4 linked regions of the Homo sapiens genome follow. The protein of the gene in region 3 purifies or fractionates together with the protein of the main gene of each other region. This does not show direct contact. Each region holds a gene or a part of one and is shown on either strand. Other genes may lie near its edges.

Region 1 (8,168 bases), on a different chromosome or scaffold from region 3:
TCAGGAGATTGAGACCATCCTGGCTAACACGGTGAAACCCTGTCTCTACTACAAATACAAAAAATTAGACGGGCGTGGTGGCAGGCACCTGTAGTCCCAGCTACTCGGGAGGCTGAGGCAGGAGAATGGTTTGAACCTGGGAGGCGGAGCTTGCAGTGAGCTGAGATTGCGCCACTGCACTCCAGCCTGGGTGACAGAGAGGAGACTCTGTCTCGAAAAAATAAATAAATAAAAAAGAAATAAAATAACTGGGCACTGAAACCTCCTATAGTATGTTAAGACCAGTTTATGGCTGCTTAAATTCAAAATGTGGCAAGGCCTGGTGGCTCAAGCCTGCAATACCAGCACTTTGGGGGGCTGAGGGCGGGCAGATCACCTGTGGCCAAGAGTTCAAGACCAGCCTGGCCAACATGGTAAAACCCTGTCTCTACTAAAAATACAAAAATTAGCCAGGTGTGGTGGTATAATCCCAGCTACTTGGGAGGCTGAGGCAGGAGAATCGCTTGATCCTGGGAGATGGAGGTTGCAGTGAGCTGAAATCTCACCACTGCACTCCAGCCTGGGCGACAGAGTGAGACTCCGCCTCAAAACAAAACAAAACAAAACAAACGATAACAAAAAATAATGTACTAATATGTTAAAAATAAATAATGTAAATAAGTAGCCAAAACATTAAAAAAAAAAAAACTATCTTCCAGGACGAACTGGGTTATATGGGAGTCAGTGGAGAAACATACAACCAAATGTCAACTTTTAATACTAATCAATATGGTCATATCTAAACTTATCTCCAAAATTTTAGAACAAATTTTAGAACCATAACGATATGGTTACAAGTAATTTTGTTAACAAAAAGAAGGAGAGAAGGCTTTAATTTAGGTACTAAATTCACTGTGACAAAGAATATAAAGCAATCTCAGAACAATCCCAATCTACCTATAAAGGAGCTACACCATCCATGTGTAGAAAGGTACTGGAACTGGTGTGAATGAAGGCAGATCATGTTTCCAGTGAAGTATTTTCCCCAGAAGGCTCTAAGCTAGTCAGATAGGTGCCCAAAACCTGCACAATTCTTGGTAACCCAAAGGAAATAACAGGAGTTGACAGTTACTCTCAGAGAAGGCCGTGCATATAAACGTGTCTTTTTTCTTTTTTTGAGATGGAGGCTTGCTTTGTCACCCAGGATGGAGTGCAGTGGCGCGATCTTGGCTCACTGCAAACTCTGCCTCCCAGGTTCAGGCCATTCTCCTGCCTCAGCCTCCTGAGTAGCTGCGACTACAGGTACCTGCCACCACCATGCCTGGCTAATTTTTTTTTTTTTTTGTATTTTTAGTAGAGACCAGGTTTCACCGTGTTAGCCAGGATGATCTCGATCTCCCGACCTCGTGATCCACCCGCCTCAGCCGCCCTAAAGTGCTGGGATTACAGGCATGAGCCACCGTGCCCTGCTATAAACATGTCTTGAATGAAGCTGTATTTTTTCTCCACTGGTATGGGTATATAATCATTTTAAATTGTTAAAAGATTATTTAAAAGACCCTGTTTGGCTGAGGGCAGTGGCTCATGCCTGTAATCCTAGCACTTTGGGAGGCTAAAGTGGGAGGATCCCTTGACGAAAGGCCAGTTCAAAACTAGCCTGGGCAACAAAGCAAGACTTCATCTCTATAATCAATCAATCAATCATTAGCTGGGCATCGTGGTGCATTCCTGTACGCTGAGCTATTTAGGAGGCAGAGGCAGAAGGACTGTTTCAGCCCAGGAGTTCAAGGTTGTAGTGAGCTATGATCACACCCCTCCACTCCAACCTGGGTGACAGAGTGAGACCCTGTCTCAAAAAAAAAACACACGCCAAAAAAACAAAAAAAGACCCTGTTAACGTTGCTGAAATCTTTCTATCATCACTGCATTGTGCAAAGAGGAGGAAGGCATTTCACAGAAGTGCGAAGCAGAAGTGGCAGAGGAAAGAATAAAAACAAAAAGGGAGTAAGAAAAAGTTATTTTGGAGGGCCAGGCATGGTGGCTCATGCCTGTAATCCTAGCACTTTTGGGAGGTGGGTGGATTACGAGGTCAAGAGATCAAGATCATCCTGGCCAACATGGGGAAACCCCATCTCTACTAAAAATACAAAAATTAGCCGGGCATGGTGGCACGTGCCTATAGTCCCAGCTACTCAGGAGGCTGAGGCGGGAGAATCCCTTGAACCCGGGAGGCGGGATTGCACCACTGCACTCCAGCCTGGTGACAGAACGAGACTCCATCTCAAAAAAAAAGAAAAGAAAAAGTTATTTTGTCCTTGCCTTTATTCCAAATCTTAATGCAGAAGAACAGACTGATAACCTATGTAAAGATTACAAGTACAGCTAAAGGTAGCTCTAGATAAAGGAAAGTTGAAGCCTGCGCTTCCCGGAATAGACTACACCTTAACATTCCCCCTGACATGAAGACTTCAAGCCCTGGACTAGTCTCTTAGGGATTAAGAGAGATTTTAAAACATTATATAAAACAAACAAAATCTATCTTCTTATAATTGGAGAAATTTGAATAGGAAGTGAATGATAGATAATATTAAGGTGGCTCACGTCTATAATCCTAGCCCTTTGGGAGGCTGAGGCAGGCAGATCATCTGAGGTTAGGAGTTCGAGACCAGCCTGGCCAACATGGTAAAACCTCGTATCTACTAAAAATAAAAACAATTAGCCAGGCGTGGTGGCACATGCCTGTAATCCCAGCTACTTGGGAGGCTGAGGCAGGAGAATCATTTGAAGCCAGGAGGCGGAGGTTGCAGTGAGCTGAGATCGCGCCACTGCACTCCAGCCTGGGCGACAAAAGTGAAACTCCATCTCAATTAAAAAAAAAAAAAGAAAAAGAAAAAAAGGGGCCAGGTGCGGTGGCTCACGCCTGTAATCCCAGCACTTTGGGAGGCTGAAGTGGGTGGATCACCTGAGGTCAGGAGTTCGAGACCAGCCTGGCCAACGTGGCGAAACCCCATCTCTACTAAAAATACAAAAAATTAGCCAGGCCTGGTGGCAGGCACCTGTAATCCCAGCTACTTGGGAAGCTGAGGCAAGAGAATGGCTTGAACCCAGGAGGCAGAGGTTGCAGTGAGCTGAGATCGAGTCACTGCACTCCAGCCTGGGCAACAAGAGCAAGACTCTGTCTCAAAAAAAAAAAAAAGATAGTATTAAGAAGTATTATCAACTTTCTTAGGTGTGATAATAGTATTGTTGTTACGTAAAAACCATCCCAATACTTAAGGGATACATGCAGAAGTATGAAGGGGTAAAGAGTTCCAATACCTGCAACTTTCAAATGGTTTATCCAGAAATTTACAAAAATAAAGCTTATATCTTCGCAGCTGCTGCTGGGGTCAATTATCTTCTGAATGAATAAACCTCCAACTACTCTCTGGTCTGGACCACCATCCCCTCCTTGCCCCCGCAAAAAAGTTCCTGGCCAGTGGCTCACCTCTGTAATCGCAGCACTTTGGGGGACTGGGATGAGCGGACCACCTGAACTCAGGAGTTCAAGACCAGCCTGGGCAACATGGTGAAACCCTATCTCTACAAAAAATTAAAAAATTAGCCAGGCGTGGTGGCATGTGCCTGTAGTCCCAGCTACTCAGGAGGCTGAGCTGGGAGGATTGCTTGAGCCCAGAAGCTTGAGGCTGCAGTGAGCCGTGATCATGCCATTGCACTCCAGCCTGGATGACAGAGCAAGACCCTGTCTGAAAAAATAAATAAATAAAAATTAAAAATCAGGTAGTTGCCAGGCACAGTGGCTCACATCTATAATCCCAGTACTTTGAAAGTCTGGGGTGGAAGGATCATTTGAGGCCAGGAGTTTGAGGCTGCAATGAGCTATGATTGCACCACTGCACTCCAGCCTGGGCAACAGAGTGAGACCCTGTCTCAAAAAAAAAAAAAAAAAGTTCTTAGGGTCTCTTTCCCACAATGCCCTCTCTAATTGACAAATAGTTGCTTCTTACTCCTTTATGGCAACAAATGAGAATAAAACTTTGCACTAGAACTCAAAAAGTACAGAGCTTTACAAATCACTTAACCCAAAACCAGTTAAAGGTGTTAGTTATCCATGCATTTCCATTTCAATAGGAGGCAGAAGACAGCCTGGTTTTCTGAAGTGACAGAACCTTCAGGCTGGTGAGGGCTGTGAAGGGTCCTACATTTGGAGGCACGAGAAACCTGAAGTTGAATTTCTACTTACATTCTAGCCATGATATTGTTCTCAAGCAATTGCCTTTGCCAGGCTTGTACTCTGTTAGAACTCTATCATTACTACACTCTTTCAAACAAACAAAACCTTACCAACCTGTGCAACTTACTTCCTAAACCTGTTCAACACCCTTCCCGTACCACATGACATATACCAAAAGGTAGAGACTAAAAATAATCTGCATTCATTACTACTTGAATGGCATGAATTGTTTATCAAGGTGTTTTTGTGGTTGTTGTTTGTTTTTGTTTTTTTTTGAGACAGGGTCTGTTTCTCCCAGGCCAGAGTGCAGTGGCACGAACATGGCTCACTGCAGCCTTGACCTCCCGCCTAAGCAATCCTCCCACCTCAGCCTCCTGAGTAGCTGGGACTGCAGGCACGCTTCACCATGTCCAGCTAATTTTTTTTAAATTTATTTTTTTGTAGAGATGGGGTTTCCCTATGTTGCCCAGGCTGGTCTTGAACTCCTGGGCTCAAGCGATCTGCCACCTTGGCCTCCCAAAGTGCTGGAACTACAGGTGTGAGCCACTGCGCCTGGCCTCATAAAGTTTTAAGTAATTCACAGCCAGCTTATTGCTACAATTAAGTGAATTAAGGGTGATGATTACAGAAACTCCTAAGACATTTGTGGCTTTATCCCCGATTACACCTTTTTTTCAAATAAGCTTTATGAAAATGCAGAAGTCTGAAAGAAGGTAGTAGAACAAAGATAATTTAGCAAATATGCCAATAGAAAGCATTTCTTAGACAATTCCTGTTAAAACATCATAACAGTTTCATAAACTGTTAAAAACTCCTTTAAAAATTTTATTTCCTTATAATTGGCAAAACATCTGTACTTAATTCCTAATCAACTGTCCACTACAAAAAGAAGTATAAAATGCTGTCACCTCCCCAATGATATAGCCCTACACATAGTTTTTATAACTAGTACATGCAAATGGTATTTTCCCAATAAGACGATTGTTAACTATGGTTCAAAATAATAACACTCACATGAAGTTTATTATACCAGACACTATTCTAAGTAGTTTGCATAATTCATCTCATGTAATTGTCGTAAGAATCCTATAAAGTAGGCACTATTATTATTCTAATTTTACAGATGATGAAACTGAGGATCACAGGTAATTCTTATCCAGAATTACTTTTCCAAACACTTACTGTTATTCATTAAATATCAAATACCAGCTAATCTAGTCATGTAGAAATTCTAATCTTTTTAAATTTGCAAAAAATATGGTTAAATATAATCATCAAATTCCAATGCACAGCTTTTGCACTGAATATAAATTTAGTATTCCTCAATTATGTTACATTTTGTACTGGCAAAGGAAGTAGTAAAATGTCTTATAATTGTTCTTAAAGTGCTTCTGATAGATAGTTTTCCAAATTCTTCATAGAAGAAAAGGCAGATGAAAATGGGACAAATTCCACCTCTCTACCCACTCCAGATATCCGTTTTTATTCTTCAAAATCTTTTGCATCATACCAAATTACTCCTTGAAAAAACAACTCTGGGCTTGGCGCAGTGGCTCACACCTGTAATCCCCGTGCTTTGGGAGGTTGAAGTGGCCTAAGAATCACTTGAGGCCAGGAGTTTATGACCAGCCTCGACAAAATAACAAGACTCCATCTCTACAAAAGATAAAAATAAAAATCAGGTAAGCATGGTGGTATGCGCCTGTAGTCCTAGCTACTTGGGACGCTGAAGCGGGAGGATGGCTTAAGCCCAGGAGTTTAAGGCTTGCAGTGAGCTATGCTCAAGCCACTGCAGTCCGGCCTGGGAGACAGAGCAAAGACCCTGTCTCTAAAATAAAGAAAAAGAAAAAGAAAAAACAACTCTGATGATGGACACTATTTGGATAAACTGATGGTTCCCAGGGCAAAGGAATGACTTTGTAGCAGGCTTAGGGGGAGATCTCTCCTGGAAGTCACCCAAAATGCCCTAGGTTAATCTATCCAAATCTACTCCACCCATGTATCAAGGCCCAATTCCTGTCCTCCATGAGGACAGCCCACAAGGACTCTCTCTCTTGCCTGATTTCTGAAGGTGGATGACACACAATTCTCAGCTTTCTTATGTCATGATGCTAATCATAACTCTCTTGGGCTTATCTCCCCAACCAGGTTGGGGGCGTTTTTTGTCACCATCTGCTCTGAGTACCTAGCACAGTACTGAACAGACACTGTAAAAATTCAGTAAGCACTTGTTTCACTAAGCATTCTGGCTCAATACATACATTTGCACTGGTTGTGGAGAGAATCTCCCTCACAAGTGACTCACTCTTTGGCAATGGGGAAAACAGCTTTTCCATGAGCACTTAGTTGTTTGTCCACAAGCCACATGGTAAAAATATCCCATCCAGGTCATTTCCATTTGGTCAAATGTATATAAACCAGAATGGGATTACTGCTCCCTTCATTCTGAAGCAAAAATGGCTTTTTGCATCTTCACTATGGTTTACACTTTCTCATTATGTGACTCTATATTTATTTCTCTTTGATTCTGCTTATTTCTCCATGTGACTCTTTAACACAAATACTTTAATTCGGTGTCACCCTAGACCTAAAGTAGTACTAATTACAAATGTGGCCAGAAGTTATGGCCACAAAACGTAATAAAATGCTTGTTGAATCCAAACTGCTTGCGTCTCCACTCCGAGGGTCAGAGTAAGTCAGTGGCCAAACAAGTACTGCAAATTATAAAGAGCTAACTACTTTGGGTCATTCAAATCGTGAAAAGGACTGCCTTGGTAGGTGGAGAGGTTACCATCATTAAATGTCTTTACAGAGAGGCTTAAGGGCCATATTTTAGGGGAGGCTGAAAGAAGCAAACCAGTCCAGAAAGGGGTGGGGCTAGAAAACATCCCTTCCAACTTGAAAACTCCAGAAAGTTGAACTTGTCACAAAGCAGAGAACAGCACTTAAACAGGCCTGAAAAATTCTGTAGTTCCCCATAGCACTCCTCAGTACTATCTGCATATGGGCCGGAGTGAGTTACTGGTCATGTCATTATCAAAGACAAGTATGATGAAGAGACAGAGCTCAGGTGCTACATCCTTCATTAACTCAATAAGAATCATAAAGGTTTACTGAAAAGATAAAATATTGTATGCATCAATACAATTGTATCATACATTGCATTATCAAGGACTATTCAAAGTTATGATGGTATTTTACAGCGCTTCAGAATCCCGAGTCCTTTTGCTCCTTTGTTCAGACTAATGAGGAAGAGACTGGACTATAAAAAAAAAAATCAGTTCTGCAGGGCACGGTGGCTCACACCTGTAATCCCAGCACTTTGGGAGGCCGAGGTGGGTGGATCACTTGAGGTCAGGAGTTCGAGGCCAGCCGGGCCAACATAGTGAAACCCCATCTCTACCAAAAATACAAAAATTAGCCAAGCGTGGTGGCAGGCACCTGTACTCCCAGCTACCTGGGAGGCTGAGGCAGGAGAACTGCTTGAACCTGGGAGGCGGAAGTTGCAGTGTGCCGAGATCACGCCACTGCACTCCAGCCTGGTTGACAGAGGGAGACTCCGTTTCAAAAAAAAAAAAAAAAAAAATCAGTTCCTAGTACAAATTCACACGGAGATTTTTGGAGCACATCCAATTTCAATAGCGAATAAAAAAGTACACCAGCATAGTAGAAATCAATACATATATGAGATTAGGACAGCAAGTATCGTCGTGTAAGTAAAAAACTGGTGGTCACAGTATCCGTGTTTTTTCTCTAGAAGTTCAGATTGAAAGAAGTCTCACAATCCCAGACCCCTGATTGTTTAAAGGTCTCCAGGCATCGGGTCATGTCTCCCAAAGCCTTACTACACGGTCTTGCTTTCTGGGTGGTTTTCCCAATTTGTGACAAGAACTTGTTTGTAATTTCCCATAGTTGTCAGAGGTTTTAGGTCCTTACCCAGAAACGGATTTTCTAC
Region 2 (3,500 bases), on a different chromosome or scaffold from region 3:
TGTAAATTGGTAAAATTACGTTTAAGTTTCTCAGACAGGAGTACTAATGATTTTGTCTCTTGCAGCCACGTATGGACCAGTACTTTAATCAGATGGAGAAAATTGTGAAAGAAAGAAAAACCTCATCTAGGATTCGGTTCATGCTTCAAGATGTTATAGACCTAAGGCTGGTGAGTGGGAAAAAAAATAATAATAAGCCTGCTGGTCCAGTCTCTTTAAAGGAATTGGGTTGGGGAAGGATGTCCTGTTGTTTACATGTGTAAAGATAGTGCTTTTGCTTCAGGACTCAGAATTTGGATTGGCAAACTTTCCGTGGGAGAGTTCTGAGAAGGGACAAAAGGCCTATTGCCAGTTACGTGCTTCTTCTCCTTATTCTGATTATCAAACCATATTGCAATTTTGTTTGCGCTTTGTTTTTTTTTTTGAGATAGAGTCTCACTCTGTCGCCCAGGCTGGAGTGCAGTGGCTCAATCTCGGCTCACTGCAGCCTCCGCCTCCCAGGTTCAGATGATTCTTCTGCCTCAGCCTCTGGAATAGCTGGGATTACAGGCACATGCCCCCACACCTGGGCAATTTTTGTATTTTTAGTAGAGACAGGATTTCACGCTGTTGGCCAGGCTGGTCTGGAACTCCTGACCTCAAATGATCTGCCCACCTCAGCCTCCCAAAGTGCTGGGATTACAGGCGTGAGCCACCACGCCCAGCCACTTGCAATTTGTAATCAGCCATTCTGAATTCAAACTCCATTCAAATGTAAATTCAATTAAATTTAGTCTTTGTGAGCTAAATAATCAGCAAGTCTCATCTCCACAGTAAATACCTTTAACTCTCTGAGCCTTACATTTTTAATCTCTAAAATGAGGATGTTGCCTACCTTGCAGATTTGTTGAAGAGTCAATGGAATAATTACGTAAGGTGCCCAGCTCAGATATTGGTGTTTTCTTCTCTTTCGTTTTTCCTGTGACCCTCCTATTCTGCTGCTGGGTTTTTTTTGTTTTTTTGTTTTTTTGTTTTTCTCATTTCTCTTACCGGGTGCAGTTTTTGTTACTACTACTTTTCTCTGTTTTAAGTTTAACTCCTACAGGGAGTTACTCTTTTGTAAGTTTCACTCCTACAGGGAATATACTACATCAAGCCCTACACTAGAGAAAGTGAACAAAGCCCTACCTCTTATTTCTCCTCCACCCAGGCCAGATAGCATTGATGATGATTCTTTATCTTGCTAAGACTAGATGTGGTTGTCTTCACCCATGTTATCAACCACTTATATCAGATGTTGGGACTGTTGCTAGAAAGAGAAGGGAGAAGTATAAAGTGACAACTTATTTTGTCCTTAATACAGGGGATAACCAAAGGGCAGAGTGGTATGGACCTTTGTGTAGAATATCAGAACCATGATATTGGAGAAATAAAAGCATGAGTCATCCTTGACTTAGAACCCCTATGGAATGTGATATGATCTGAGTAGTAATCCCACAGATTAAGGCAAGGCCAAGGAATCCTCATCATTTTTATTTTTCTCTCCTCCTTTCAAATGTACAAAATACTGATACAGATAAAATCCATTTAGTCCACAGAGAAATATATGCCATGCTTAAAAATATAATAATAAATTTGGGCCAGTCTTTCACCCTGTTCTTTGTATCCATTGGCTATTGGAATATGTAGTATACAATTGGCCAGTTTTGACTGAGAAGATTTTAATCCTTCAGCTCTAATCCTAAACTGCTCATAGTGTCATCTATAAGATACATGAGAAACTGCCATAATACAGCTTTTGTAGGTATTTTGTACTTTTCCAGTAGTAAAAATTGCTAATTTTTAAATTTTAAAAAATGTTCAGTTTATCTGGCAGATAACCTTATTTTCTGCTTTTATAGTGCAATTGGGTATCTCGAAGAGCAGATCAAGGGCCTAAAACTATCGAACAGATTCACAAAGAGGCTAAAATAGAAGAACAAGAAGAGCAAAGGAAGGTCCAGCAACTCATGACCAAAGAGAAGAGAAGACCAGGTGAGGCCGGAATCCACCAGGGTTTAGAGAACTTGGAAGTTTCAGGAATACATATTAAGAATTATGTATTTAGGTATAAAATGAGATCAGAAAGAACAGCCCAAAGAATAGAGTGGTGATTGTTAGGTGAAGCAGTTTCACCTGAAGAGTAAAGTTACTGAGTAAAAGTAGAGAATGCAGGAACAAAGCATGATTTCTTTCACTACTTAAAAGCCAGTAAGCAATAAGACTTTATTGAGCATCTTCTATATACTCAGAATTGGTGAGACGAGAAAAGGAAGTGGAAAATGTAGTTACTTCCCTCTCAAAGTGTACAGTTTATCTGGTAAGGTAAAACTTTTGACAAGCAAAAGAGGAACATTTGTTAAGCAAATGGAAGATAGTATATCAATTATGAAATGTGTTCTCCATTAACTGTTAAAATTTAGAGAAAAAGAAGAGAGACAGAAAGCTGAAAGAAAACTTTATTTAAGAAAGGGGCACTTTGTAGCAGGCCGGACGCAGTGGCTCATGCCTGTAATCCCAGCACTTCGGGAGGCTGAGGTGGGTGGATCAATTGAGGTCAGGAGTTTGAGACCAGCCTGACCAACATGATGAAACCCCGTCTCTACTAAAAAATTTGCTGGACATAGTGATGTGTGCCTGTAGTCCCAGCTATTCAGGAGGTTGAGGCAGAAGAATCACTTGAACCTGGGAGGTGGAGGTTGCGGTGAGCCGCGATCGCGCCACTGCACTCCAGCCTGGGGAACAGAGTGAGACTACATCTCAAAACAAAACAAAACAAAAATAGAGACATGCAAAAAAAGTGAAAGATGAAGTAGAAGGCATTTTAAACCTGAGACGATAGTCCATTTACTAAGTTTAGGAACGTTGGAAAAGAAAACCTTTTTCAGAGGGAAATGATAATTTTCTGGCTGATAGTAAATACTCAGTAACCATTAGTTATTGTCACAGACACAGTAGAGCTCATAGTGAAGTTGTTAGGAGAGATGAATTCTGCATGGAAGAAAGTTTACTTTTAAGTTTCTTGAGATACCACACTTACCTTCCTCGCTCTAGTACCTAGTGCAGTGCCTTTTGGGTAATAACTTTTATTTATTATTGAACCAGATTGAGAGGGAAAAGGAGAAGATACCAAAGCCTAATTCATGGAGGATATTCACATATGACTAAAGGAAGAAAAGAACTCTTGGAAAAGTGCCAGACAAGTGGAGAGAAAGGACTAAGATACAAGTGTCATAGAGACAAGGAAGAAGCAAGTCTGTTTATGATCAGTAATATCAGATAGCACGGAGAAAATCAAGACGTTATGTTAGGACCAGAAAAGCTTTTGGATAGACAGTTCGGTGATCTTTCAATTTATTAATTCATTCAGCAAGTATTTTTTTTTGAGATGAGTCTCGCTCTGTCGCCCAGGCTGGAGTGCAGTAGCGCGATCTCGGCTCACTGCAACCTCCGCCTCCCGGATTCAAGCAGTTCTCTGCCTC
Region 3 (8,168 bases):
CATTACTTTGAGGAAGGAACAATCTCTCTGATGTTTGGTTAAAATAAGTAACAATATCCCCAACTCAGTTTCTTTAGAAGTTAAGGGGTGGTGTATTAAATATTTGGATTGGCCAGGCACAGTGGCTCACATCTGTAATCCCAGCACTTTGGGAGGCCAAGGTGGGTGGATCACCTGAGATCAGGAGTTCGAGACCAGCCTGGCCAACATAGTGAAACCCTGTCTCTACTAAAAATACAAAATTAGCTGGGCATGGTGGTGTATGCCTATAATCCCAGCTACTTGGAAGGCTGAGGCAGGAGAATCGCTTGAACCCGGGAGGTGGAGGTTGCAGTGAGCCGAGATCACGCCATTGCACTCCAGCCTGGGCAACAAGAGCAAAACTTCGTCTCAAAAACAAACAAACAAACAAACAAAAACTGGATTGAAACAAGGATTATTAAAACTAGGATTATTTCTCTATATTATTCCTTAAGGAAAACAAAATACTGGTTTTTCGTCTACCTATGTCTTACTAGAAAACCACAGGAAAATTTAAAATATACACAGAAGAAATGGTAAGGGTACTGTATATGTGTGGGTAAATTTCTTAAAGATAAATGATTATTCAAAAAAGATAAATCATTGTTCAAATATAACCCTATCTATGTTTAACAAGTTATATTTTCTTTTTTTTTTTTTTTTTTTTTTGAGACAGAGTTTTGCTCTTGTTGTCCAGGCTGGAGTGCAATGGCACAATCTTGGCTCACCGCAACCTCCACTTCCCGAGTTCAAGTGATTCTCCTGTCTCAGCCTCCTGAGTAGCTGGGATTACAGGCATGCACCAACAGGCCCGGCTAATTTTGTATTTTTAATAGAGACAGGGTTTTTCCATGTTTGCCAGGCTGGTCTCGAACTCCCAACCCCAGGTGATCTGCCTGCCTCAGCCTCCCAAAGTGCTGGGATTACAGGCGTGAGCCACCGTGCCCGGTCTAACAAGTTGTATTTTCATTCAAAGCACTATATTTCCAGCATTTATAATCATTTATATTCCAAAACAGATTCCGAATAAAATAACAAAATCATAAGTTGCATTCAACCAGAAGTGCCTATGTAAGCAGCATTCCTTCATTCAGAGCCTGTAAATCTTTGAACTCTCTCCAGGGTGCCTGCCTGGGTATAAGAACTCTGCATGCTTTTCCTTCTTTGGACTACACATAAAGAAACAACAAACTGGAGTTGCTGGGAGTAGTTTGGACTATCATAGGTCACTATCTGGCTCCTAATCTAAAGTTTTAGATTTTAACTGCTAGGAGAGCATGGGCTGAGAACTTGCTTACTTTATACTCTGACTGTTTAATTTTAACCCAGTTAAGCATGCATGTTTACCAAATGCTTTCTGATGATGGTGAATGATCGTAGGTTAGCCAGTGAACTCAATGCCATGTGGACAGAACTTGACCTCCACAGAGACACCGGCTTGAGACAAATGCAATGTTCTGGCTTCTAGACTCAAATCTAAGACACAGCAATAAGTCCTCAACTTAAAAACAGACTGTGATCCACAAATCATCCAGTGGGTCAGTTGTGGGAGGTTTTCATGAAACAAGATTATAAATTGTTGTTAGGTCCACAGAATTGTCCACATAAGCCTCTTTTATCCAAATGAGCTTCTTCTATTAACAGCACTTACCTGAATTCTGAATAGTGAGAACTAAGGAAACTAAAGAAATAAGAAAGGCCTTTCTCCTTTCACAAGATCCAAGCCCAAAACAGGCAAAAATGTAAGTCTTGAGCAATCTGACATCATTTTGTACAATTCTCCTTCCCAAGCACCCAGTAAACCTCATGCTGCTCTAAGCACTTAAACTGTGATTTGCCACCCCTTAGAGACTTCAAAATTTTATCCAATTCCCCTTTGCAATGGCAGCAGGTCTTAGTTCTTAAGAGAGGGAGCAGCCATATATAAAAGCCAGTTTAAGATCATAAAATTATATTTTCACTCAATCTATGAAAAAACAATCTAGATATGTTAATTCATAACCAATAGGTACATGACAAATAAATCTAGAAAGGCAATGAGGCCACTTTCTTTTTTTTAAGAGGCTAGGTAATTAAAAGTAATTTTATTATACAATTGCATATGGCCTGAAAAAAGGACACTGGACAATTCTGAGGATCATTTTTGATGGATTTAGTTCAGCCACTCTGATGGAGAGTCTGTACTTGGCTGACTCCCCTAGGTTGTTCTTGTCTCTCAAGGCTTTCTTCCCTTCCTGTGTCTGAGACTACAGACACTGACTTCAGGATAGAAGCAGGAGGGCTGAGTGTCAGGTAAGATAAAGAGTGAGTAAAGAGTTTTAAATAAGGAAAAGGAACCCAGTTGCACGTATGACCATGGGTTATAGGACATCTGTGGACCAAGGTCGTTTTATATAGTTTTGTGATGCTATGATTCTGTCATTTAGTTTAACATATTCCAATGTAGACAGTGTAATACAAATGTTTAGTCTTAACCTATGCCTTAGGACTAGTCAGTTTCATACTCCAGGATGTATGGAACTCAAGTCATACACCTTGTTAGTCAAGAACTCTTACTCCAGGGTGGTCAGCTAGCATTTAATCAGAAGGCCGCCTTTCAGAGATGCCACTAATGGCTTCAGCTATCTTTATCTTTATTGCCCATCGATTTCTCAAGCTTTGTTAATTAGCATAACAAATTTTATTTATTTGTTTATTTATTTATTTGAGACAGGGTCTCGCTCTGTCACCCAGGCTGCTGTGCAGTGGCACGATCTCAGCTAACTGCAGCCTCGACCTCCTAGGTTCAAGGATTCTCAGGCCTCAGCCTCCCGAGTAGCTGGGACTACAGGTGTGCGCCATGGCGCCCAGCTAATTTTTGTATTCTTTTTGTAGAGACAGGGTTTCGCCATGTTGCCCAGGCTGGTCTCGAACTCTTAAACTCAGGTGATCTACCTGCCTCAGCCTCCCAAAGTGCTGGGATTACAGGCATGAGCCACTGCACCAGGTCCTTGCATAACAAATTTTAGAAATGAGTTTTCACTGTAGAAATTAGTGGTTTGTTAATTTGCATAATGGATATCAGAAACTGGTTTACCTGGATGCAATTAGTTGTATTCACGCTATGTGAATGGATAAATATTTTAGTGTTATTCCCCACCCTTGCATAATGGAGTACAGTAAGTCCTCCCTGAACATTGTTGATAGGTTCTTAGAAACTGCAACTTTAAACAAAATGATGCATAAAAAACTCAATATTTTTTCTCATCAACATTATAAAGAAACAACATTGAACAAAATGATGTTATTTATTCAAGAACCTACTATAAAGTCATTTTGCTTAAGGTCACAGCCTACAAGAACCTATCAATGATGTGAAGTGAATGCTTACTGTGTAATATCTAGCCAGCCCTTCTTCGAGAGGCAGACACCTTAAACCATCCTCTGCTGGTTCAGGAGGGTCCCTGGTTTCCTGGCTGACAGCCTAACTCAGTTGGCCAAATCCTGCTCCTAGAAACATTGCTACAATTGTCTGAAATAAACTTTTCTTGCAAAGTGTTTTTGAAACACCAAAAAAGACAGCAGGGAGTTTATTAACTGTATAGGACTTGAGGTATAGACTGTTTTGTGACAGCCTGCTAATTTAACATCCTGTATGTAAATAAGAATCCAATCTCCCGGCCAGGATCGGTGGCTCACGTCTGTAATCCTAGCACTCTAGGAGGCTGAGGTGGATCACCTGAGGTCAGGAGTTGGAGGGCAGCCTGGCCAACATAGTGAAACTCCATCTCTACTAAAAATACAAAAAAAATTAGCTGGGGATGGTGGTGCATGCCTGCAGTCCCAGCTACTCAGGAGGCTGAGGCAGGAGAATTGCTTAAACCCAGGAGGTGGAAGTTGCAGTGACCCAGATTGCACCACTGCACTCCAGCCTGGGTGACAGAGAGGACTCCATCTCAAATAATAATAATAATAATTCAATCCCCCATTATAATGTAGGTATAGTTAACCTTCACTGAGATAGACTGAATGTTTTTGTCTCCCCCAAAATTCATATGTTAAAGCCCTAACTACCAATATGGTGCTATTTGGAGATGGATCCTTTGGGAGGTAATTAGGGTTAGATGAGGTCATGAGGGTGGAGCACTCATGGGATTAGTGCCCTTATAAAAAGAAACACTAGAGAACTTGCACTCTCTCTTCATGCCTGCACAAAGAAGGGATCATGTAAGCACACAGGAGAATGCAGCTATCTGCAACACAAGAGGAGAGCCCTTATCAAAAACTGACCATGCTGCACCCTGATCTCAAACTTCCAGCCTTTAGAACTGTGGGAAAATAACAGTTCTAAAACTGTTGTTTAAGCCACCCAGTCTGTGGTACAGTAACTCCCCCCTTATCCAAGGTTTTGCTTTCCATGGTTTCAGTTACCCACAGTCAACCATGGTCTGAAAATATTAAGATATTTTGAGAAAGAGAGAGACCACATTCACATAACTTTTATTAGTCAGTGTATTATTATAATTGTTCTATTTTATCAGTTGTTATTGTTGTTAATCTCTATTACTAATTTATAAATTAAGCTTTATCATAGCTATGTACATATAGAAAAAAACATAGTCTATATAGGATTTGTACTATCCATGGTATTAGGAATTTACTAGGGCACTTGGAACATATCCCCCATTATCCAGAGGGGACCACTGTATTTTGTCTGGCAGCCCAAGCAGACTAATACATTCACCTATATTCAATCTTCCTCAAACAAACAAAAACTAAAGCCATAGTGATCCATAACTAAAATATTTCACTTATTTCCCTTCTTTCAAGTTGTTCAGTTTTCTTACAATATAGTTATAGCTAGAGTTAAATATGAATGAGCCTGTAAGTAGCCCCTTGCCTCCCAATGCCCACCCCACTCACAAATCCATTCCCGCTTTCTTCATAAGAAAAAGAACCCTAAATGTGAGATAGGCATATAGCCACCCAGAACAAAGACTACATTCCCCAGCTTCCTTTGCAGCTAGGTGTTATCACATGACTTGAGTACTAGCCAATGGATACAAGCATAAGTGGGATATACAACTCTCAGCTTGTGCTCTTAGAGATGGGTGTGTCCTTTTTAAAATTCCTTCCTCATAGCCATTTGCTGTACACACTGAGTAGAGTTGGAACAGCCATCTTAGACCATAAGAGAAGCACAAATTGAGGAGAGTAAAGCAACACAGATTGAGCTGTTACCAGCCTTCACTGGTTATGTTTAAGTGAGAAATAAACTTCTATCTTACTTAAGCCATTGTTATATATAAACCACTATTACTTTCAGCTAAACCTATAACTGACTAGAATGATAAATGACATTATTACCAGTGATTTTTTTAATTAAAAAAAAGAAAAGGCCAGGAACAGTAGCTCATGACTGTAATCCCAGCACTTTGAAAGGCTTAGGCAGGAGTTCAAGTCCAGGAGTTTGAGACCAGCCTCAGCAACACAAGGACACCCCATCTCTACAAAAAATTTTAAAATAGCTGGGCATAGTGGCAAGCACTTGTAGTCCCAGCTACTCAGAAGGCTGAGATGGGAGGATCCCTTGAGCCCAGGCGGTCAAGGCTACAGTGAACTATGATCAGGCTACAGTGAACTATGATCATGCTACTGCACTCCAGCCTGGGTAAAAGAGTGAGGCATTCTCTAAAAAAAAAAAAAAAAAAAAAAAAAAAAAAAAAAAAGTGATAGTACTTCTGAAAGTTCTCTTACCAGGGAAGTTCAGTCAGGCCTCCTTGTATAGCAATAGCAGACTTAACCCTGTTAGCAAACTGGACTGCATCTTCTCCTTCCTGGTTTAAAAAAAAAAAAAATTGCAAGAATATCTTAGTTATCGAGTTTTTAATACCATCTCATAATCATTTGTATTTGTTTTAAAATATAAGATTCATATTTCAGCTCAAATGCTTTCTATTCTTAATCAATCATAGCAAATATCATTTGTTCTATAAAGAAAATGCAGTGTTGTATTGTTTAATTTTTTACCATGTGCATATATTTATTACGCTCTTTATTAGTCTTACCCAAGATAATATCTGTAGGTTCAATAAACCAACAGCAATTATAAAACCATCGTGGAAAATAATCTCTCAATATAAAATGGTCTGATTTAAAGTGAGCTAAATACATCATTAAAAAAATGACCCATTTGCTGAGAAAGCAGAAAAGCATGACATGGAGAAGGGAGACACCCAGATTTTCAGGTGAAGATCTCCTTGCCTCTACCTGATTAGATAAAGTGTTAGCTAAGGAATACCTCTCTGGTCATGGGGGGCATGTACCACACGTCACAGACGATGGCCCAGCTGGTCATCATTCGAAGCAGGTAGCTCACCATGTTGTATTTACTACTGTTCCAAAATGCATCACCGAACTGAGGGTTATACTGAGAAAAAAGAAAATACATCTCAGTTATGAAATAAGGGTGGTTTCTCATCCGTGCCCAATGTTTTAAAGGTGGTAGGCCAAACAGCTTTATCAGACTCTAAGAAAAAAAAAGTTATTTCACTTGATGGAATTTATCAAAAAAAAAGTAAACTGGGCCAGCTAATACATCTGACTAGAGATGACTGCTTTTCTAAATAGAACCAAAGAGCACACCAACAAGAGTTATTTACATGACTATTAAATATCTGTCTCCACACTTAACTAGAAGGCTGATGAAAGCAGGAACAGAATCTGTTTCACTTAACACTATGAGCAAATACAACACCTGGCACAGAGTCACCCAGTATACATCTATCTACATATAGAGAGCGAGCACATGAGAAAGCAGGGGAGGCAAAGTGCAGAGGACTGGTGCATCCGAAAACTGGTGTTCCTCGTTCTTGCAAATTTTAAGTTTGAAATGCTACCAAAATAAAATTACCAATCCAATATCTTTATAATAATTATTATTCTTATTATGGTATCTGTTTTACCTTAATTGCAACTGGATGTATGGTTCCTCCAATTTCAAAGCTCCCCTTTTTAAACATCATGACTGAAGTATTGTTGATGCAAGTTCCTGCAAGGGGGTGAGGGTAGGAGCGTGAATATTTTTAAAGGCAGTCATTTTAAAAATAAATTTTAAAAGAAATTATTTTGATATAAAATAATTTAAAATATCAAAATTACAGGCATCGTACTACCATATCACAAACGAACCCCTGCCAAGGTAGTAATCCTATAGTTCTGACTAAGCAGGTTTAACAACAAGCTTTTACTTTTCTACTGAACACTCTATGGGCCTATGGGAACAACTTCTCAACAGGTGAAATTTCAATACATGCAACCCTTAAAGTCACGGACAATTCTGCTCTCAGTTCACTACCCAGAAATGACTTTTGAATTAAAAAGGTAACATGACTTCTATCAAGTCTCAAAAGAAAGCAAGGAATTAATAACTCAGAGAGTGCCATCCCATTCCTCTAAGGGCAGAGATCTGGGCTAAGGTTGCCAATTCTATGGCAATTCTATTCCTCACACACTTTTGATGGTTTGTTGTTATCAACTATAGCTCGGGAGGCAGGCCCATTCTTACCTTCAGGAAAAATTAGTATGGGTAGTTTCTTCTTATCAGCAATATGTTCTTTTAGTCTATGGAAAAAAAAAGGATCAAAATTCTGCCTTTATAAAGAGAGAGGTGGATGTCCTTTTTGATATTCCTTGCACTTTACTGGCACAATTGTGAAGCAATAAGGAGAAAATAATTGAGATACAGGTAAAAGAAATAAATTTGAGTTGTTTCCTTTCCAAAAAAGTTTAAGAAGATCTGCACCATTATAATTTCTCTAATTTCAAAGTAAGTCTTTTTTCTTTTTTTTGGTGGGTGGGGGATGGGGTCTCACTCTTTCATCCAGGCTGGAGTGCAGTGGCATGATCTCGGCTCACTGCAGCCTCCACACCCTGAGCTCAAGCAAACCTCCCTCCTCAGCCTCCCAAGTAGCTGGAACCACAGATATGCACCACTACACCCTGCTAAGTTTTTGTATTTTTTGTACTGATGGCATTTCACCATGTTGCCCAGGTTGGTCTCGAACTCCTGAGCTCAAGCGATCCACCCGCCTCAACCTCCCCAAGTGCTGGGATTACAGGCATGAGCCAATGTGCCTGGACCAAAGTAAGTGATTTTCAGTGTCTTC
Region 4 (8,168 bases), on a different chromosome or scaffold from region 3:
CTTGTTTTTTGGATGCCGTTGATATCCCATGAAATCATTTTCCATGGAAAACCTATTTGGAAAATGATGGGCTAGAGCATGGGTTGGCCAAATTTTCTGGAAAGAGCCGGATAAATATTTCAACTCTATGGGCCATACAGCCTCTGTCACAACCACTCTGCCATTGCATCTTGAAAGCAGTCGTAGATTGTACATACACAAATGAGCATGACTGTGTTCCAGTAAAACTTTATTTACAAAAATAGGCCATAGTTTATAAACACCTGGTCTAGACTGTGCTTTCCACTAACCACTAGCCACAGGGGGCTGTTTAAATGAAAATTCATTTAAGTTAAATAAAATGAAGAATTCACTTCCTCAGTTGCATTAGCCACATTTCAAATGCTCAGCGGCCACATGTAACTAGTAGCAATTGTGTGGGACAGCACAGATATAGAAAACTTCCAGCATCACAGAAAGTTCTGTTGGACAAGGCTGACCTAGAGCAGGTCTGTCCGATGGAAACACAGTTAGAGCCACATTTAAAAAGCCAAAAGAGGCCAGGCACGGCGGCCCATGCCTGTAATCCCAGCACTTTGGGAGACTGAGGTGGGCAGATCATTTTGAGCTCAGGAGTTCAAGACCAGTCTGGGCAACATGGCCAAACCTTGTCTCTACAAAAAATACAAACATTAGCTGGGCATGGTGCCATGTGCCTGTGGTTCCAGCTACTCAGGAGTCTGAGGTGGGAGGATCACTGGAGCCAGGGAAGTCAAGGCTGCAGCGAGCCGTGATTGAGCTTCTCCAGCCTGGATGACAGAGTGATACCTGGTCTCAAAAAAAAAAAAAAAAGTCAAAATAAAAGGGAAATTTAGTATAATGATATGTTTTTATTTAAACTAATATATCCAAAATGTTATTTTTACATGTAATCAATATTTTTAAATTATTTTAATTAAAATTAAATGTGTTACATTTTTCTCTTCATGCCAAGTCTTCAAAACTGGTATGTACTTAGAGCACATCTGAATTTGGACCAGCCGCATTTTTAAGTGCTCAGTAGCCACATATAGCCAGTGGCTACCATATTAGACCACATGCCTCTAGAGGCTAGACCCTCACACAGAAGAACAGGATGTAACCGGTTATGCTATCATTAGTTATGGAAGTATAACTATTTATCTAATAAACAATTGTGCCTTCATTTCATACTTCTAGGGAAGTTATGTGAGTTGTATTTAATGAGCCCTAATGTCTAGGTACAAACAGGTTTTCCCAGAAGCCTAAGAAACAGATTCACTGCAACTGTCCCTACCCAAGTCACCTTGTGGGGCAGCTCATTCCAGCAGCATTGCCCACTGTCCTCTGGCAGACACAGTGAAGGTCAGCACACTGAGGCCTGAACTTTCAAGCTCAGGAGCAGCTCTGCCTCCCCCTCCACCTCCAGAGACACAAGCTCTAGGAGCACCTCACCTTTCTTACCTGTCCAGCATCCCTCCCCTGTCCTGGTGTGGTTGTAATTCACATATGATTCACCAACATGCTCACATCCAGTCATTCTACCACACTTAAATTCTCCTTTAAGAATATAACCAGCAGTCATCCTTGTAGTTTTTCTTCTCTGTATGTATTAGATTCCATTGAATCACTTGTTAAGGCCAGGCTACTCTAAAGCCTTTTTCCCAAATAGAACTTTTCCCCTCTGAATGTTTGTATATAATTGAACACAATCAGGACCTTTTAAAGTAAGATATCAGTGGTTTCATCATATAGGAATATAGTGAAAGTCTATAAAATCGTCAGTGGTGTGCCAAGATGTGATCACTAAATCCTGAAATATGAATAGCTAACATTCATGGGCCACACATTGTTCTAAAACTTTTACACGTATTAACTGACTCCTCACCACATTCTCTTATCTCCGTTTTATTTATTTATTTGTGAGACAAGGTCGTGCTTTGCCATCAAGGGTGGAGTGCAGTGGCATGATCAGAGCTCACTGCAGCCTCAAACTCCCGGGCTCAAGCCATCCTCCCACCTCAGCCTTCCATGTAGCTAGGACTACAGGCACATGCCCAGCTAATTTTTTTATTTTTAAAATTTTTGTAGAGACAGGGTCTCACTATATTGCCCAGGCTGGTCTCAAACTCCTGGCCTCAAGCGATCCTCATGCCTCAGCCTCTCAAAAAGTGCTGGAATTATAGGAGTGAGCCACCACACCTGGCTTTTCTCCATTTTATAGATAAGGAAGCTAAGGCCCAGAGAAGTTAAACTGTTTGCTCTTGGTCACACAGCAGGGAGTGGCCAGGCCAGAAATTAAACCCAGGCTATTTAACTCCAGAACTCATACTCTTTCTTCTTATTCTTTGTACTTGCCTCACATGTTGGACACATTTTTGTATTCTAAGAATAATATATATATTTTTTAGTAAATAGCACTTGAGAACCTTCCCAAACTTGCCCTGTTCCTCACACTGCCGTGGCATTGATTTTCTGGACGCCTAGTTTGCCCAGGCACTTAGTCATGTAACCACTAGCCGTGGCTTCTGTTTTTCCCCATATGCCTGCCCAGCTCCCTGGTTGTACTCTGAGCTCTCTGTTAGCAGGGACTGTGCATCAGTCATACCTCTTCTGTTTATCCTTCTCCTCAACCCCCCACCATGTCTGGCCCTGTTAAACAATCAAGTAAGCAGTGCACTTATAGACTTTGTCACCCAGAGGTACTTAAATGCAACAGCTACAGGTAGGCTAAAGAAAGATTCTGTTGACCTCATGCTGGGGAAATCGGTAATAAGAAATTGAGGGAGTTGTAGGAGTGTTTGCAGTGTGTGTGGTTTTTTGAGTCTGGCCTCATGCGGACTAAAAAGATCACACCCCTCCAAACATTGAGGCAGCCCTGCAGTCCTATAATGCTTCCACTGATACGTCGCTCCCAGTCAGGCAGGCAGGCCAAGTTACTTAGGGATATGGCCCAGGATGGAATCCATAGGTTTCTGTGAGAACCCCTAGAGAATGCCACAGCCCTTTGTACCCTTATAACAATGCAGTCCTTTCCTTGCAAATGCGAAGTGACTGGTTGTAGTTTTAGCAGCTTTCTCTGTGATTTGCTTTTCTTCTATTTAGGGAATTGTGCTCTTCTGTTTTAAACTTCTTTCTAACCTGCAGAAAAGAACATGGTTCTCTTTTCATGTGCCCCACTCAGATCAGAGAGGTTAGCTCAGTTGGTTAGCCTCACCTAGACAAGTGGTGAACATAGGTACTGATATTTTCAGCATTTCAGCTTCATAAAACATCCTTGTCCCAAAAATGGTACTCTTGAAAGTGAAAGTATATAGTGTGAATTCTGAGAGCCTAAATACCACTAACACCTCTGCTCATTGCTATTGGAGCACATTAGCTAGAAGAAACCTTTTTTTTCCCCTCTGTAAGTTGTTCTCATACCTTTTTTTCTGCATGACCTCTGAGTGATTTTTAAAAATAACTTTATTGAAGTCTAATTCACATCTCATACACTTTATTCATTTAAAGCATACCATTCCCTGGCATTTAGTATGTTCACAGAGTTGTGCAACCATCACCTGCTGAGACCAGCTTGGTCGGGGAGACCCTAACCCAGCGGCACTAGAGGAATTAAAGACACACACACAGAAATATAGAGGTGTGGAGTAGGAAATCAGGGGTCTCACAGCCTTCAGAGCTGAGAGCCTCGAACAGAGATTTACCCACGTATTTACTGACAGCAAGCCAGTGATAAGCATTGTTTCTATAGATTATAGATTAACTAAAAGTATTCCTTATGGGGAAACAAAGGGATGGGCCGAAATAAAGGGATGGGCTCTGGCTAGTTATCTGCAGCAGGAGCAAGTCCTTAAGGCACAGATTGCTCATGCTATTGTTTGTGGTTTAAGAACGCCTTTAAGCAGTTTTCCACCCTGGGTGGGCCAGGTGTTCCTTGCCCTCATTCCAGTAGACCTACAACCTTCTGGCCGTGGGCATCACGGCCATCACGAACATGTCACAATGCTGCAGAGATTTTGTTTATGGCCAGTTTTGGGGCCAGTTTATGGCCAGATTTTGGGGGCCTATTCCCAAAAATCACCACAATCTAATTCCATAATATTTTATCACCCTGAAAAGAAACCTAATACCCATTAGCAGTCACTCCCTTTTCCCCTCTCCCCAGAACCCCTGGCAACAACTAATCTACTTTCTATCTCTTTGGATTTGCCTGTTGTGGACATCTCACATAAATGGAATCACATCATATGTGGTCTTTTGCTACTGGCTTTTTTCACTTTGCGTAATATAATCAGAGTTCATCCACGTTGTAGCATGGATCAGTACTTCATGCATTTTATGGCCAAATAATATTCCATTATATGGATATACCACATTTGAGTTGTTTCTACTTTTTGGCTATTATAAATAGTGCTGCTGTGAACATTTATGTACAAGTTTTTGTATAGACATATGTTTTCATTTCTCTTGGGCATATTCCTGGGAGTAGACTTCCCTGGGTCATGTGGTAACTCCATGCTTAACCTTTTGAAGAATTGCCAAATTATTTTCCAGAGTGCCTGTGCTATTTTACCTTCCCAGGAGTAGTGTTGTGTGAGGTCTCCAGTTTCTCCACATCCTTGCCAATACTTGTTATCTGTCTTTTTTATTTAGCCATCCCAGTGGCTGTACAGGGGTATCTCACTGTTGTTTTGATTTACAATTCCCTGGTAGTTAGTGATGTTGAACATCTTTTCATGTGCTTATTAACCATTTGTGTATCTTCTTTGGAGAAATGTATGTTTAGATCCTTCGTCTACTTTTTAATTGGATGTTTCATCTTTTATGAGAGTTGTGAGTTCTTTATATGCTCTAGATACAAGTCCCTTTTCAGACAAGTGATCTCCAGGTGTTTCCTTCTGTTCCATGGGTTGTCTTTTCACTTTCTTGATAGTGTCTTTTGAATCACAAAAGTTTTAAACTTTGAAGAAGCACAACTTACCTGTTTTTTTCTTTTGACTCTTGTGCTTTTAGTGTGATAACCTCAGAAATCATTGCCTAACCTGAAATCTCAAAGCTTTACTCCTGTGTTTTCTTCTAAGAATTTTATAGTTTTAGTTATAAAACTAGCATTTAGGTCTGTGGCTCATTTCATTATTTTTTATATATGGTGTGGGATAGGGACCATTATTTTATCTAATAGTATTTATCTTTTTTTGATTATGGAAGCAATACATGCTTATTGTAGAAAACCTAGATAAAGCAGAAAAACATAAAAAAGAAAAAAATTTCTCATAATTCTACAACCAGAGATACATTGTTAACTTTATCTGTCCTCAATCTTTTAAAAATGTATCTATATTTGTGTTTATATTTCGAAACATTATACAATATATATACTTATATATAGTATACATACTATAGATACACTACATGTGTATATATTGTGTATCTATAGTGTATATATAGTTTTAAATAAACTGCTTAACTGAATTATGAGTTATTGGTGAGTTACCACAGAGTGAACACACCTGGGTAAGCACCACCCAATAGAGAAATCGATTATACCAGCACTCCAAAACCCCCTTTTTTCCCTCCCTCCCCATCACAAACTCCTTCCTCTTCCATGTATATAGTTTTTCATCTTGCCTTTTTTTAAAGTTCATTGTAGCATGAGCATTCTCTCATGTCAGTAAAATTTCAAAACTGGTTTTTCATAGCTGCACAGTATGGCATCAGCAACTGGACCATCACTGACTTGTCCATTTCCCCAGTGTATGTCCCCAATTTCAGCCTTCAGTTTTCTCAGAAATCCCACGCAGAATAATTTCTAGGAATTTGAGCACGTTGGTGGGGTTGTGCTTTTGTTCTGGATGCACACGGAGACCTGTCTGAATGAGTGGATCTATCTGTGTCTAGCCCTGTGATTGCTGCACAGTTCTCAGACAATCTGATTCGGCCGTTCCTCATCCACATCATGTCTGTGCCTGCTCTGGTGACTCATCTCAGCACAGTGACCCCTGAGGTAAGCAGGCTCTGTGAGTTCCCCGTGAAAACCCAATTGTGTTTTTCTTTTCTTCTTAAACATTAGAAAGTAAAATGGCTTCTCTGCTTATTTCCACACCTCCCTTTAATTGTTCTTTGGGACCAGTGGCCGTGATAGACACATTTGTGTTAGTAGCCCAAAGAAGTGGGTTCTTGTCTGTCCATTTTCTTCTTGGTGTTTGCTAGCACATCCTCCATAACCACGGGTGATCTGCAAGTGATCAAGTTCACTCTCTACAGGAAACTGTTTCTGGCAGTTTCTGATTTAACGGTCTGCTATTCTTTGCAGCGCCTCACTGTTTTAGAATCCCATGACATGCTTCGTAAATTCATCATATTTTTAAGAGACCAAGATCGATGCCGTGATGTATGTGAAAGTTTAGAAGGATGCCATACGCTTTGTCTAATGGGTAAGTATCCGTGGCTGGAACTTGATTGTGTCCTGGCCATCAGGGAAAGCCCGAGTGTTTTGCCTGTCACTATTCTAGAGATTTGGTTGTTTTCTGTAACAATTGGAAGTGCTTACAATAAAAAACACGTATTTAGATAGACAGTTAAAATAGACATGTAAATAAAAATCACATGGAAAATATTCCAGCCTGGCAAACTAGTTAAGTGACTGTTAATGAACATTAGATGTCAGCCTTTAGCTTCCTGGCAGTCAAGGAGAAAGTGAAAATGTGGTGAATTGCCTGGATAATTCCCATCTCAAGAGAGAAGGGAGGGAGTAGTTAGGTGGGGCTTATATCAGAGCAGCGCCTGCTTTACCTATTTTACAGTGTTTTCATTGTAGATGGAAGAAAGGGTTTATGAATAGAAGCATTTGAGGCAGAGGCACAGAATTCTCCTTGCCTAAATTTATTTTAGATAGGAAAAGTTTTTTTTGTTTTTTTTTTTTTGAAGACAGGGTCTCACTTTGTCACCCAGGCTGGACTGCAGTGGCACAGTCATGGCTCACTGCATCCTCTACCTCCTGGGCTTAGGTGATCCTCCCACCTCAGCCTCCTGAGTAGCTGGGACTACAAGCGCACACTACCACGGCCGACTAATTTTTGTATTTTTAGTGGAGACGGGGTTTTTCACCATGTTGCCCAGTCTAGTCTCCTTGGGCTCGAACAATCCACACGCCTCAGCCTGCGAGATTACAGACTTGAGATAAAAACTTCCCTGGGGCCAAATTTCATGAGGAGTTTCTGGTGCGAATGTTCACACGAGTGACGTTGACTAACTGGTGAACGTTGAATAACAGCGACTTCCCACGACACTCAGATACTCTTCAAAGACCATTTCTTATGTTAACCCTTGATTTTTAAGCATTAATATAATATTAAAATGTAACACTAACTAAATATCACCTACCTCTGTGTGCCTAACATTTTACCTGCCACTTCATCCTCATATGGAGAGTAGGGATCATCATTCCAATCTTACAAATGAAGAAACAAGTTTGAGACATGGGTTGACGGCCACGGCTCACCTTGTCTGTGGCATAGCCAGGATTTGAAGTCAGCTTGGCCCGTTTCTTACCTTTGCACCACACAGCAGCCTCCGGCATTGACAGGTGCCCCTTATGTGGAAATTTCTTGCTGCACATGGGATGTGGCCGCCTGAGCCACAGGCAGGGAGCAGGGCCGGGAGGCACCAAAATGTTTGTCTGGGCCCATCACACTCAGCCTTCTCTCTCTGTAGGCAACCTCCTACACTTGGGCTCCCTCAGCCCCAGAGTGTTAGAGGAGGAGACAGATGGGTTCGTGAGTTTGCTCACCCAGACGCTGTGCTACTGTCGGAAGTATGTGTCTCAGAAGAAGTCCAACCTGACCCACTGGCATCCTGTCCTTGGCTGGTTCTCCCAATCTGTGGATTATGGGTGAGTCCCAGATGCAAATCACTGTCTTTCCTGCCTCTCTCCCACCATCTTCTTCTTCCTTCTTTCTTTCTTCCAGCTTGTGGTGTTTTGTTTCTTATTATAAAAATAATATGTATTCATTATATATTAATAAATTGTGAGTAAGAACAAAAGAGGATAAAAACCAGCCCATTATCCTGTAAACCAAAGATAACTTGAGTGAACATCCTGTCAGTTTTCCTATCTAGAAATACTGATCCTTTTTTACAAAATTGAAATCCTATTATTTTGTATTTTGTTC

What was found.
Region 1: the proteins of GPAT3 (region 3) and CHP1 purify together in Homo sapiens (affinity purification with mass spectrometry; one large-scale study listed by BioGRID and IntAct). This does not show direct contact.
Region 2: the proteins of GPAT3 (region 3) and EIF4G3 purify together in Homo sapiens (affinity purification with mass spectrometry; one large-scale study listed by BioGRID and IntAct). This does not show direct contact.
Region 4: the proteins of GPAT3 (region 3) and UBE3B purify together in Homo sapiens (affinity purification with mass spectrometry; one large-scale study listed by BioGRID and IntAct). This does not show direct contact.

Annotation. Positions count from the first base shown.
Region 1 is NC_000015.10:41,231,840-41,240,007, reverse strand, and holds part of CHP1 (calcineurin B homologous protein 1), read right to left. Parts: intron 1-8,168. UniProt on the Homo sapiens protein: Calcium-binding protein involved in different processes such as regulation of vesicular trafficking, plasma membrane Na(+)/H(+) exchanger and gene transcription. Involved in the constitutive exocytic membrane traffic.
Region 2 is NC_000001.11:20,858,898-20,862,397, reverse strand, and holds part of EIF4G3 (eukaryotic translation initiation factor 4 gamma 3), read left to right. Parts: intron 1-65; coding exon 66-170; intron 171-1,880; coding exon 1,881-2,013; intron 2,014-3,500. UniProt on the Homo sapiens protein: Component of the protein complex eIF4F, which is involved in the recognition of the mRNA cap, ATP-dependent unwinding of 5'-terminal secondary structure and recruitment of mRNA to the ribosome. Functional homolog of EIF4G1.
Region 3 is NC_000004.12:83,596,313-83,604,480, reverse strand, and holds part of GPAT3 (glycerol-3-phosphate acyltransferase 3), read right to left. Parts: intron 7,624-8,168; coding exon 7,568-7,623; intron 7,052-7,567; coding exon 6,966-7,051; intron 6,431-6,965; coding exon 6,302-6,430; intron 5,838-6,301; coding exon 5,758-5,837; intron 1-5,757. UniProt on the Homo sapiens protein: Converts glycerol-3-phosphate to 1-acyl-sn-glycerol-3-phosphate (lysophosphatidic acid or LPA) by incorporating an acyl moiety at the sn-1 position of the glycerol backbone.
Region 4 is NC_000012.12:109,491,923-109,500,090, forward strand, and holds part of UBE3B (ubiquitin-protein ligase E3B), read left to right. Parts: intron 1-5,895; coding exon 5,896-6,001; intron 6,002-6,310; coding exon 6,311-6,431; intron 6,432-7,710; coding exon 7,711-7,888; intron 7,889-8,168. UniProt on the Homo sapiens protein: E3 ubiquitin-protein ligase which accepts ubiquitin from an E2 ubiquitin-conjugating enzyme in the form of a thioester and then directly transfers the ubiquitin to targeted substrates.